Linked DNA regions of Homo sapiens: region 2 is linked to region 1. The links come from fine-mapping of genetic effects on gene expression. A gene starts in region 1. The other region holds a variant in brackets. All regions are shown on one strand. Distances are from middle to middle.

Evidence for each region.
Region 2: its variant is fine-mapped to the expression of UBXN2B in lung (TOPMed, PIP above 0.99).

What each region holds. Positions count from the first base shown.
Region 1 is chr8:58,409,019-58,414,402 of GRCh38, reverse strand. It overlaps UBXN2B (UBX domain protein 2B), which reads right to left and starts at 3,042. Exons shown (of 8, transcript NM_001077619.2): 1 at 2,934-3,042. The coding sequence starts at 3,017. RefSeq lists enhancers at 2,597-2,646, 2,927-2,976, 2,987-3,046.
Region 2 is chr8:58,625,090-58,630,473 of GRCh38, reverse strand. All of the region lies in intron 6 of NSMAF (neutral sphingomyelinase activation associated factor), which reads left to right. Among named protein-coding and RNA genes, the nearest start is that of NSMAF, 32 kb to the left of the region's middle. The variant G/A (reference allele first, on the strand shown) is at 3,107.

The DNA of each region.
Region 1 (5,384 bases):
AATATTAAAAGTATTGGAATTCTCAGCCTTAGAGTAACCAATTCTAGACGCTGTAATAAATGATTATTATACAGACACCTGGGAACTTCTAGGAAATGCATATGCTTAAACTCTACTCTAGAACCAATGAATCACACTCTGGGGTAGGGCCCAGCAATCTCTGACAAGCCTTCCAGGTCACAGATGCATACTAGAGAATCAACGATACAGAATAATGACATTCAATATGATTAGGGTACTTGTGGCAACACAGTTATCAGAACAGCTATCAGACATTTTAATTCTTCTCATTTATAGTACCCACTATTGAGTCCATCCTAACAAATCCAATCCTAACCCTAACAATACTGAAGTTATCCCTGTTCCCACTCCCTCCCCGTCCAACCTATGTAGAAACAGATAATATGTGGAGGAAAACTGGGACAGAGTATACAACTAAATACCTTAATGAACATGTGTGTGGCGGGCTGAGGGACACCAGAAGAGAAAGCAATTCAGAAATACTATTGAACACTGGTGAGGTTTTGGGCTTAGTTTTGCCACTAACAATCCCACCCCTAACTTTCCCCATGACCATCTCCTTATTTGAGGGGGATGAAGGGAGCTATGAAAATCTACTCTGATATGCAAAAAAACATTTCCGAGTCTGCAGTTTGTAACCTGGGGGCTCCCAGGGCTGGGAGGCCTTTTGGGAAGCAACTATGCAGCTTTTCTCTGGTGGTACCTGGAACACTCCCTCCTGATTCAGATGCTGACAAACCCTACACTGCATGGCAGCTAAGATACACTTACTCAGGGGTAATTCTGCTTGTTCCAATTGGTAATATGTTGCCCCTTTACTCACTCTGAAAGACTCTTAGAGCAAGCTGTTAGGGAAGTAAGAAATATCTACTGAAAGCTGCACGAACTGCGTAACTCTTAAGAAAAGCATGTCTAGATTAAACGGTAACAAGATAATCTATAAATAATCAATATCCAAGGTACCATTTGGGAAGAACATTATTTAATTCTTTTAAACTTTTGATACATACTTTATTTCTTGATATGCCATCCCTTTGGCTGTTTTCAAGTTTCTTTGCAAGTTCTTCACATTCATATTAAGTTCTAAAGGAAAGATTATCAATACTTAGATACTGTACTTGATACACCAAATCACATTCATAAAGAAATCAGTTATCTTCCTACTGCCCTAACCTACAACAAGTAGACAGGAGATGAAAAAAAAAATCCCCATCATAACTTAGGGTGGAAATGAAGGCATTCTCACAATTAGCAACATCTACCAGAGTATCTCCAAACATTAATCGTACTTTGATCCACTGGATTAAGACTGCAAACAATTTGCCAAGAATCAGGTGGTCATTAAGCAAGCTGTTCTCACTTTTCACATAAAAAGAAGAAATGGATTTAAATTAGGGAAAGGACATTAAGTTACACACTCTATTAACTTTAATGATATTAGAATTGACTAGCCAGGGAAAGTTATAGCATCTTTCTCCTGAGGAAAAAGGAATCAAATATTTGCCCAGCAACAACTGAGCCAGGATAATGTAGGAATTTTGCATAGGCCCTTTATAACATTATTTAATCCTTACACCACCACCAGCACCCTGACCTTCCTCAGTTTACAAATGAAGACACAGGATCAGACAGGTTAAGACATTTCTCCTAAGTTCACAAAACTACTAAGTAGCAGGACTAAGAGGCAAACCAAAATTGGTGGGACTACTAACTCCATGCTGCCTCTTAGTGATGTGGGTTTATAATAGGAAAGATGAGGTACACAATAGCTTCCTATCCCTTGATACTGTTTACTACTACTGAACCAACTATGGGAGCTGGAACTATTCTACATTAAGTTCACCTCCTAATGTTACACTGATCTCTCCAGCCTCCAAATTCTTCGCTTTATGCACTGCTTATTTTGGCACCCAATCATACTCCATCTTAAAATGTTATGCTAAGTATTCATACCCTATTTCTCCGAAGAAATCTGTAGGCTTCCAAAAGGTAGAACTGTCTTTTACACTTACATACCTACCCATCAATAGAGTTCAGCACCGACTAAGGATTTGATGTCCTTATTTCCACATTCGCAAAGCTCAGCAGTATGTTACAATGGATGGTGGTTTGTTCACATTAGAATGAAGTGTGGTTGTAAAGTAATACAGTAAAACTGTTCTACCAAGATTCTCCTTAGTATCTCCTTACTGATATTTACTTGTCAAATTTTTATCAATAATCTTATAATGAGACACAAAAACGCCTAAAATGAGAAAAGTGGCGTTAGTATCTGATAAAACGGGATTTGGTGCGCTACTATTTAGCTAACTAATACTAGTGTCCTACACAACATTACGAAATTTTATTTCCCAGTTTCTTCAGTGCAATGTTTTAAAGACCACAGCTTAGACAACTAGGCTGTATGGGCATAGAGTGCATCGCTTTCCTTCACCCCTTTAAAAGAAAAACCTACCTGATAAAATGGAACCATTTTTATATTTAAGTAAGCAAGTCAGAAATAGCATCCAAGACAAAAAAGAACAAATCACGTATCATTACTGTTCAGGTGACTGTCTACTTCCCTGCGGCCACAGTAACCTTTCTTCTGGAGTAAGTCTCAAGAAGGAAGCATCAACCCGTGAACCGACCAACTGACCCCGCAAAATGTCATTCTAAACGAATAGCTATTTTTACATCATACGTGGGGTGGAAGGGAGACAAAGCACCAGCGCTGGAGGCTTGGGCACTTGTGTTCACGACCACCACAGTGTCAAGACCCGACATCGGGAGACCGGGCGCCGGATTCTATCCCCAGACGGGGTCGGGGAAAGGCTCCGCCGAGGCCAGAGGTGGCCTCCAACTCGCACCAGCCCGCGCCGTCACCAGCCCGCGTCCACCGCCGCGCTCCCTCCCCCGGCTCCTCGCCTCACCTGCAAATCCCGCGCGCTCGGAGGCCGCGGCCCGGAAGACCTCCTCTCCTGCTCGCCGGGCTCAGGGCCTCCGCCCTCCGCCATCTTCCGCTGGCTAGCGGCGCCCGCTGCGGACGCACCTGCCGCAACTTCCGGGGCCGGTTGCCTGGCAACCGCAGGAGGGGCGAAGACGCGCAAGGTGCGTGCGCGTCCCCGCTACCCGAACCCGCGCCCCCGCTTCCGGTGCTGGCCCACCTTTTTGGTTTCTCCTTTTTTCTTAAAGGGAGTTTCTCCGCAGGGAAACCTCTGTTAAGTTTTGTGTTGCTCCTGCTACTCGCCTAAAGGCACTGTAGGCCGCCCTAGAGGGCAGCATAGACTTGCAGATTCATTTAGCTCAACAATGAAAACATCCTCTGGATTTTTCATCTGATGAAAAATTGCAACCTCTCCATCTAGTCTTGGTCAGATTCTCTGATCTTTCCTATCAAGGATTGGATGGTACATCGTCACCACAGCGTGAATTAGCACTGAGAGTGAAAAACACCGTAAAAAGTGCTTGGAATAATTTGCTAAAAGCAGAACTCTGCCGGGCCTGTGGCTCACGCCTGTAGTCCCAGCACTTTGGGAGGCCGAGGCGGACGAGGTGATCGAGACCATCCTGGCCAACATGGTGAAACCCCTTCTCTACTAAAAAAAAAAATATATATATATATATATATATATATATATATACACACACATATATATATACACATATATACACACACATATATATATACACATATATATACATATATATACACATATATATATATATATATACACAAAAATTAGCTGGGCGTGGCGGAGCGTGCCTGTAGTCCGAGCTACTGGGGAGACTGAGGCAGGAGAATCGCTTGAATCAGGGAGTCGGAGGTTGCAGTGAGCCGAGATCGCGCCACTGCACTCCAGCCTGGCGACACAGGGAGGATCCGTCTCAAAAAAGAAAAAAAGCAGATCTCGAGACTATCAAGCCCTCGTCATTCAACTGAAATTGATTTAGACTCTGGTCTTCTTATCCTAGGCACTTTTTGTTTTTGAGACGGAGCCTCGCTCTGTCGCCCAAGCTGGAGTGCAGTGGCGCGACCTCGGCTCACTGCAGCCTCCACCTCCCGGGTTCAAGCAATTCTCCTGCCTCAGCCTCCCGAGTAGCTTGGACTACAGGTGCGTGCCGCCATGCCCGGCTAACTTTTGTATTTTTAGTAAAGACGGGGTTTCACCATGTTGGCCAGGATGGTCTTGATCTCCTGACCTCATGATCTGCCCACCTCGGCCTCCCAAAGTGCTGGGATTACAGGCGTGAGCCACTGCGCCTGGCCTCCTAGGCACTTTTATGCCCAAGGGATGCAAAGGTAAAAAGAAATAGTCCCAGTCATTATGAAACTCAGTCTAGTAGGGAAAAGAGACATGTAAACGGGTAAGATGCAGCTTGCAGTAGAGCTTTGCTTGGGAGGGTTACAAAGGAAATGTGAGCCATGTGAGGGGAAATACTCCGTTGGTATCTGCTGTGTGCACCATGCTAGGTGCTGGAGTCGACAGCTTGCCGCCCGAGCTTTGGCATACTGATCGTTTTGATGTATAAAGGCATTTGAGGCTGGGCGTCGTGGCTGACGCCTGTAATCCCAACTCTTTGGGAGGCCGAGGCAGACGGATCACTTGAGGTCAGGAGTTTCAGACCAGCCTGGCCAACGTGGTGAAATCCTGTCTCTACTAAAAATACAAAAATTAGCTGGGCGTGGTGGCGCGTGCCTGTAGTCCCAGCTACTTGGGAGGCTGAGACAGGTGAATTGCTTGAACCCGGGAAGCAGAGGTTGCAGTGAGCAGAGATGCACCATTGCACTTCAGCCTGGGTGTCACAGAGAGACTCCGTCTTAAAAACAAAAAACAAAAAACAAAAAAAAGCATTTGATAAACAGCAGGTGCAAGAAGAGCACTCTGACCTTTTCTTCCTGAAAGCAGGAAAAGAAACTACCATGTGATAGATGCCCTCCCTATACCAAGAGGAAAGATACTCATCACCAGAGAAGGGGAGTTGAGGCCGAGAAACATCTGTACAGATATTGTTAAACTAACCAGTATCTTCCTAGATACTCTTCCACGATTGCCTCTCTTTGTTCAACCTAGTATATAAGCACTTAGGCCTAGCCACTTCTTCGGGTGTTTATTTTCCTGTGAGGACACCCACTTATACGTAAAGTTTTATTAAATAAAATTTGTATGCTTTTTCCCTGTTAATCTGTTTTGTGTCCGTTTAATTCTTGGACCCAGCTGGAGACTCTGAGAGAGTAAAGGAGAAAATTTTCTCCCCCAGCTGTGCATTCCCTGTGTAATTTCATTTATCCCTCTACCAGGTAGTTATGATTATCTTGTTATACCCGAGGAAACCAGATGATGAAGACTAACTTCACCCTGTAGTAAATGGCAGTGCCAAAT
Region 2 (5,384 bases), 220 kb before region 1:
GCTCTCGTGAGAGCCAGCTGAATTGCATACCTGCACATGGTTCATTGAAAGATTATGTGAAAGGAAATAAAAGTGAGGTTGTCTGAGTAAAGAAAAGCTCTTTTGTTCCAATGTGAATTATAATACCAAAGCATTCTCAGATTAAAAAAAAAAAAAGGGTGAGGTGGAATGACAGCAGCAAGATGGCAGAATAGGAAGTTCTAGCCCCTCCTTCCTCCTGTGAAGACACTGATTCAGCAACACATGGACAAATTCCCTTTGTGAGAAATCTGGAAACCAGTTAAGAGGATCCTGCACCCCCGGTGAGCATGAAACTAACCACATCAAAGCCGGTATAAAAATTTGTGTCACTATCTGGCCATCCTCTGTCCCACACAGCACCACATGATTGGGAAGAAATTTCCCAGCCTCTAGCTTCTCCCTGGAGAGGGAAAGAGAAAATTGGACTATACATCCAGAGTTCTGACTTTTCAGGGGAGCTGCCCAAGGGACTGGCTTCTGTCTCTTCTGTCTCAGAGTACAGATGGAACCCTGCATACTCTAGATGCCTGGAGCCACTGATAACAAAAGAGAGCTGGGTAGCACGCTACTGCTTCAAAGGACCTGTGGTACAGCAGACATCTAGACACGAGAGACAGCAAAGGAGTCCAAGCTTCTGAAAAAAATGAAACCAATAAATTTCTCTAATTAGGAATCTACATGCATAAGTCCAGAGAAGACACTTCCATAGAAAAGGTTTGAGAGGCCTCCAGCATCTCTAGCCAGGCTGATTAATGAAGGTCTCTTTCTCTGTATGAAGCCAGTCCTTAGAGACTGGAGAGGTAATTGTTTTTGTTGTTGTTGTTGTTGTTTTTAATGTGTGGATATTAGCACAAAATTAGAGGGAGCACAAAGAATCAGAGAAAAATAGTCCAATCAGAGGTACAAAATAAATTTTCAGAAACCAACCCTAAAGAAAAGGGGCTATATTAATTACCTGACAAGGAATTCAAAACTATTGTCATAAAGATGCTTAATGAGCTCAGGAAAATTATGCATGAAGAAAATGAGAATTTTAACAAAGAGAATATTAACAAAGAGAAAATATAAAGAAGAACTGAACAGAAATTTTGGAGAAGAATGTAGTAACTTAACTAAAAAGTTCACTAGAGGAGTTCAGCACAGACTATAAATCAGAAGAAAAAATCAGCAAACTGGAACACAGGTCTTTTGAAATTATCCAGTCAGGGGAGCTAAGAGAAAAAAGAATGAAAAAGAGTTAAGAAAGCCTAAAGTACTAATGACACACCGTCAAGTGGACCAAATACATAATATGCGAGTCCAAGAAAGAGAAGAGAGAGAGAAAGAAACAGAAAGTGTATTTAAAGAGATAATGGCCCCAAACTTGCCAAAACAGAGGAAGGAGATGGACATCCAGATTTAAGAAGTCTTCCACATAGGAGGACTTCAGAGATGTCCTTACCAAGACACATGATAATCAGATTATCAGAAGTAAGAGTTAATTTTGAAAGCAGCAAGAGAAAAGTGTCTGGTCACAGAAGAAAGCCCCCACAAAATGATCAGATTTTTCACCAGAAAGCTTGCAGGTCAGAAAATTGGATGATAAATTCAGAATGGTAAAAACAAAACCAAATAAAACAAACAAATAAAAATGCCTGCCAACAAAGAACACTGTATCTGGCAAATTGTCCTTGAAAAAAATGGAGAGATAAGGACTTTCCCAGATAAACAAAAGCTCAGAGTTTACCACCATTAGATCTGCTTTATAGGAAATGCTAAAGTGAGTCCTTCAATTTGAAACAAAAAGATACTAAACACCAACATGAAAGTGTAGGAATTATAAATCTTGCTGATAAAGGCAAATACAGAATACTGTAGTGCTGTAATGGTGGTGTGTAAATCAGTTTAATTCTGGTATACAAATTAAAAGACAAAAGTATAAAAACCCCATAACTAGAAATCTGTGTTAATGAATACACAATATAAATGGATGTAATTTGAGATATCATTAACATAAAAGGAGACAGGTATCTGAAGGAATAGTTTTTGTATGTGACTGAAGTTAAGTTGTTAACAGATTAAAAGAGATTATTATAACTGTAAGATGTTTTATATAAGACCCATGGTAACCACAGAGAAAATACCTATAGAAGATACACTAAAGAAGAGTTTTTCCAATATTATCATGTAGAATTTTTATGGTTTCAGGTTTTAGGTTTAAGTCTTTGATCCATCTTGTGTTGATTTTTGTATAAAGTAAGAGATAAGGATCCAGTTTCATTCTTCTACATGTGGCTTGCCAGTTTTCCTAGCACCATTTATTGAATAGGGTGTCCTTTCCCCACTGTATGTTTTTGTATGCTTTGTCAAAGATCAGTTGGCTATAAGTATTTGGCTTTATTTCTGGGTTGTCTGTTCTGTTCCATTGGTCTATGTACCTGTTGTTATACTAGCCCCATGCTATTTTGGTAACTATAGCATTGTAGTATATTTTGAAGTTGAATAATGTGATGCCCCCAGATTTGTTCTTTTTGCTTAGTACTGCTTTGGCTATTTGGGCTCTTTTTTGGTGCCATATGGATTTTAGGATTGTTTCTGATTGACAAAGGTATTTTGATGGGAGTTCTGTGAAGAGTGATGGTGGTATCTTGATAAGAACTGCATTGAATCTGTAGCTTGCTTTAGGCAGTATGGTCATTTTCACAATATTGATTCTACCCATCCATGAGCATGGGATATGTTTCCATTTGTTTGTGTCATCTATGATTTCTTTCAATAGTGTTTTATAGTTTTTCTTGTAGAGCTATTTTACCTCCTTGGTTAAGTATAACCATAAGTATTTTATTTTATTTTTTTTGCAGCTGTTATAAAAGGAATGGAATTGTTGATTTGATTCTTAGCTTGGCCGTTGTTGGTGTATAGCAGTGCTACTGATTTGTGTACATTGATTTTCTATCTGGAGAATTTACTGAATTCATTTATTAGATCTAAGAGCTTTTTGGATGAGTCTTTAGAGTTTTCTAGGTAAATGGTCATATCATTGGTGGACAGTGACAGTTTGACCTCCTTTTTTCCAATTTGGATGCCCTTTCTTTTCTGTCTGATT[G/A]CTGTGGCTAGGACTTCCATTACTATGTTGAATAGAAGTGGTGAAAGTGGGTAACCTTGTCTTGTTCCAGTTTTCAGGGGCGTAGGCAAAGAATTCATGACTAAGAACCCAAAAGCAAATGCAACAAAAACAAAAATAAATAAACGGGACCTAATTAAACTAAAAAGCTTCTGCACAGCAAAAGAAATAACCAGCAGAGTAAACAGACAACCCACAGAGTGGGAGAAAATTTTCGCAAACCACACATCCGGCAAAGGACTAACATCCAGAATCTACGAGGAACCTCAAACAAATCAGCAAGCAAAAAACAAATAATCCCATCAAGAAGTAGGCAAAGAACATGAATAGACAATTCTCAAAAGAAGACATACAAACAACTAGCAAACATATGAAAAAATGCTCACCATTATTAATTATCAAGGACATGCAAATTAAAACCACAATGAGGTATCACCTTACTTAGTGAGAATGGCCATAATTAAAAAGTCAAAAAATAATAGACGTTGGCATGGATTTGGTGAAAAGGGAGCACTTTTACACTGCTGGTAGGAATGTAAACTAATACAACCACTGTAGAAACAGTATAGAGATTCCTTAAAGAATTAAAAGTAGAACTACCTTTCAATCCAGCAATCCCACTGTCAGGTATCTACCCAAAGAAAAAGAAGCCATTATGTGAACAAGACACATGCACACACATAGTTATAGTAACACAATTTGCAATTGCAAAAATATGAAACCAACATAAATGCCCATCAACCAACAAGTGGAAAAAGTCCTATATATATACACCATGGAATACTACTGAGCCATAAAACAAAATGAAATAATGGCCTTTGAGCAACTTGGATGGAGCTAAAGGCCATTACTCTAAGTTAAATAACTCAGGAATGGAAAACCAGATTATTGTATGTTCTCACTTATAAGTGGGAGCTAAGATATGAGAATGCAAAGACATAAGAATTATATAATGGGGCCGGGTGCAGTGGCTCATGCCTGTAATCCCAGCACTTTGGGAGGCCAAGGTGGGCAGATCACGAGGTCAGGAGATCGAGACCATCCTGGTTAACACTGTGAAACCTGTCTCTACTAAAAATACAAAAAATTAGCCGGGCGAGGCAAGTGCCTGTAGTCCCAGCTACTTGGGAGGCTGAGACAGGAGAATGGTGTGAACCCAGGAGGCAGAGCTTGCAGAGAGCCAAGATCGCGCCACTGCACTCCATCCAGCCTGGGTGACACAGTGAGACTCCATCTCAAAAAAAAAAAAAAAAAAAAAGAATTATATAATGGACTTTGGGGGCTTAGGGGGAAGGATGGGGGTGGTGATGACGGATAAAAAAACTACATATTGGGTACGTACACTGCTTAGGTGACAGGTAAACCAAAACCTCAGAGAACTTATTTATGTAACCAAAAACCACCTGTACCACAAAAACTATCAAAATAAATTTTAAAAAAAATGAGGAGGAAATCAAACTATGTCATGATAAAATGTCAACACAAAGGAAGATAGAGGACAAAAGAGGACAAATGAGCTACAAGACAGAAAACAGTTAAAATGGCAACAGTAAGTCCTTCCCTATCAATAATTAAGTATATCAAACTCCCCAATCAAAAAATATGGAGTGCCTGAATGGATTAAAACAAATAAGATCTAAAACTATATGCCATCTGCAAGAGACTCATTTTCGGTTTAAGGACACAGATAGGCTGAAAGTGAAAGGATGGGAAAAAATATTCCATGCTTGGTAATCAAACAACAGAGCTAGCCATACTTATATCAGACAAGATAGGCTTTAAATAAAAAACTTTCACAAGAGACGAAGGATATTATGTAATGATAAAAGGGTCAATTTATCAGAAAGATAAATAATTACAAATGCATTAGTCAGGGTTCTCCAGAGAAACAGAACCAATAGGATGTGTGTGTACATACATTCACACATATATATACATACATACATACATACATATGCATATACATATATACAGACATATACACCCATCTAGGGGTATATTGCTGTATATATGTATATATACAGAGAGAGAAATTGATTTATTATAAGGTATTGAATCATGTGATTATAGAGGCCAAGAATTCCAGACCCAGGAGAGAGGCAATGGTATAGCGTTTAGTCTGAGTCTGAATGCAAGTCTGAAGGCAGGAGAAAACCAATATCCCAGCTTGAAGACAGGAAGAAAGAGTGTTTTTCCCATTTAGACTTTTATTCGATTTAGGCCCTCAATGGATCCGATGAGGCCCACCCACATTGGGGAG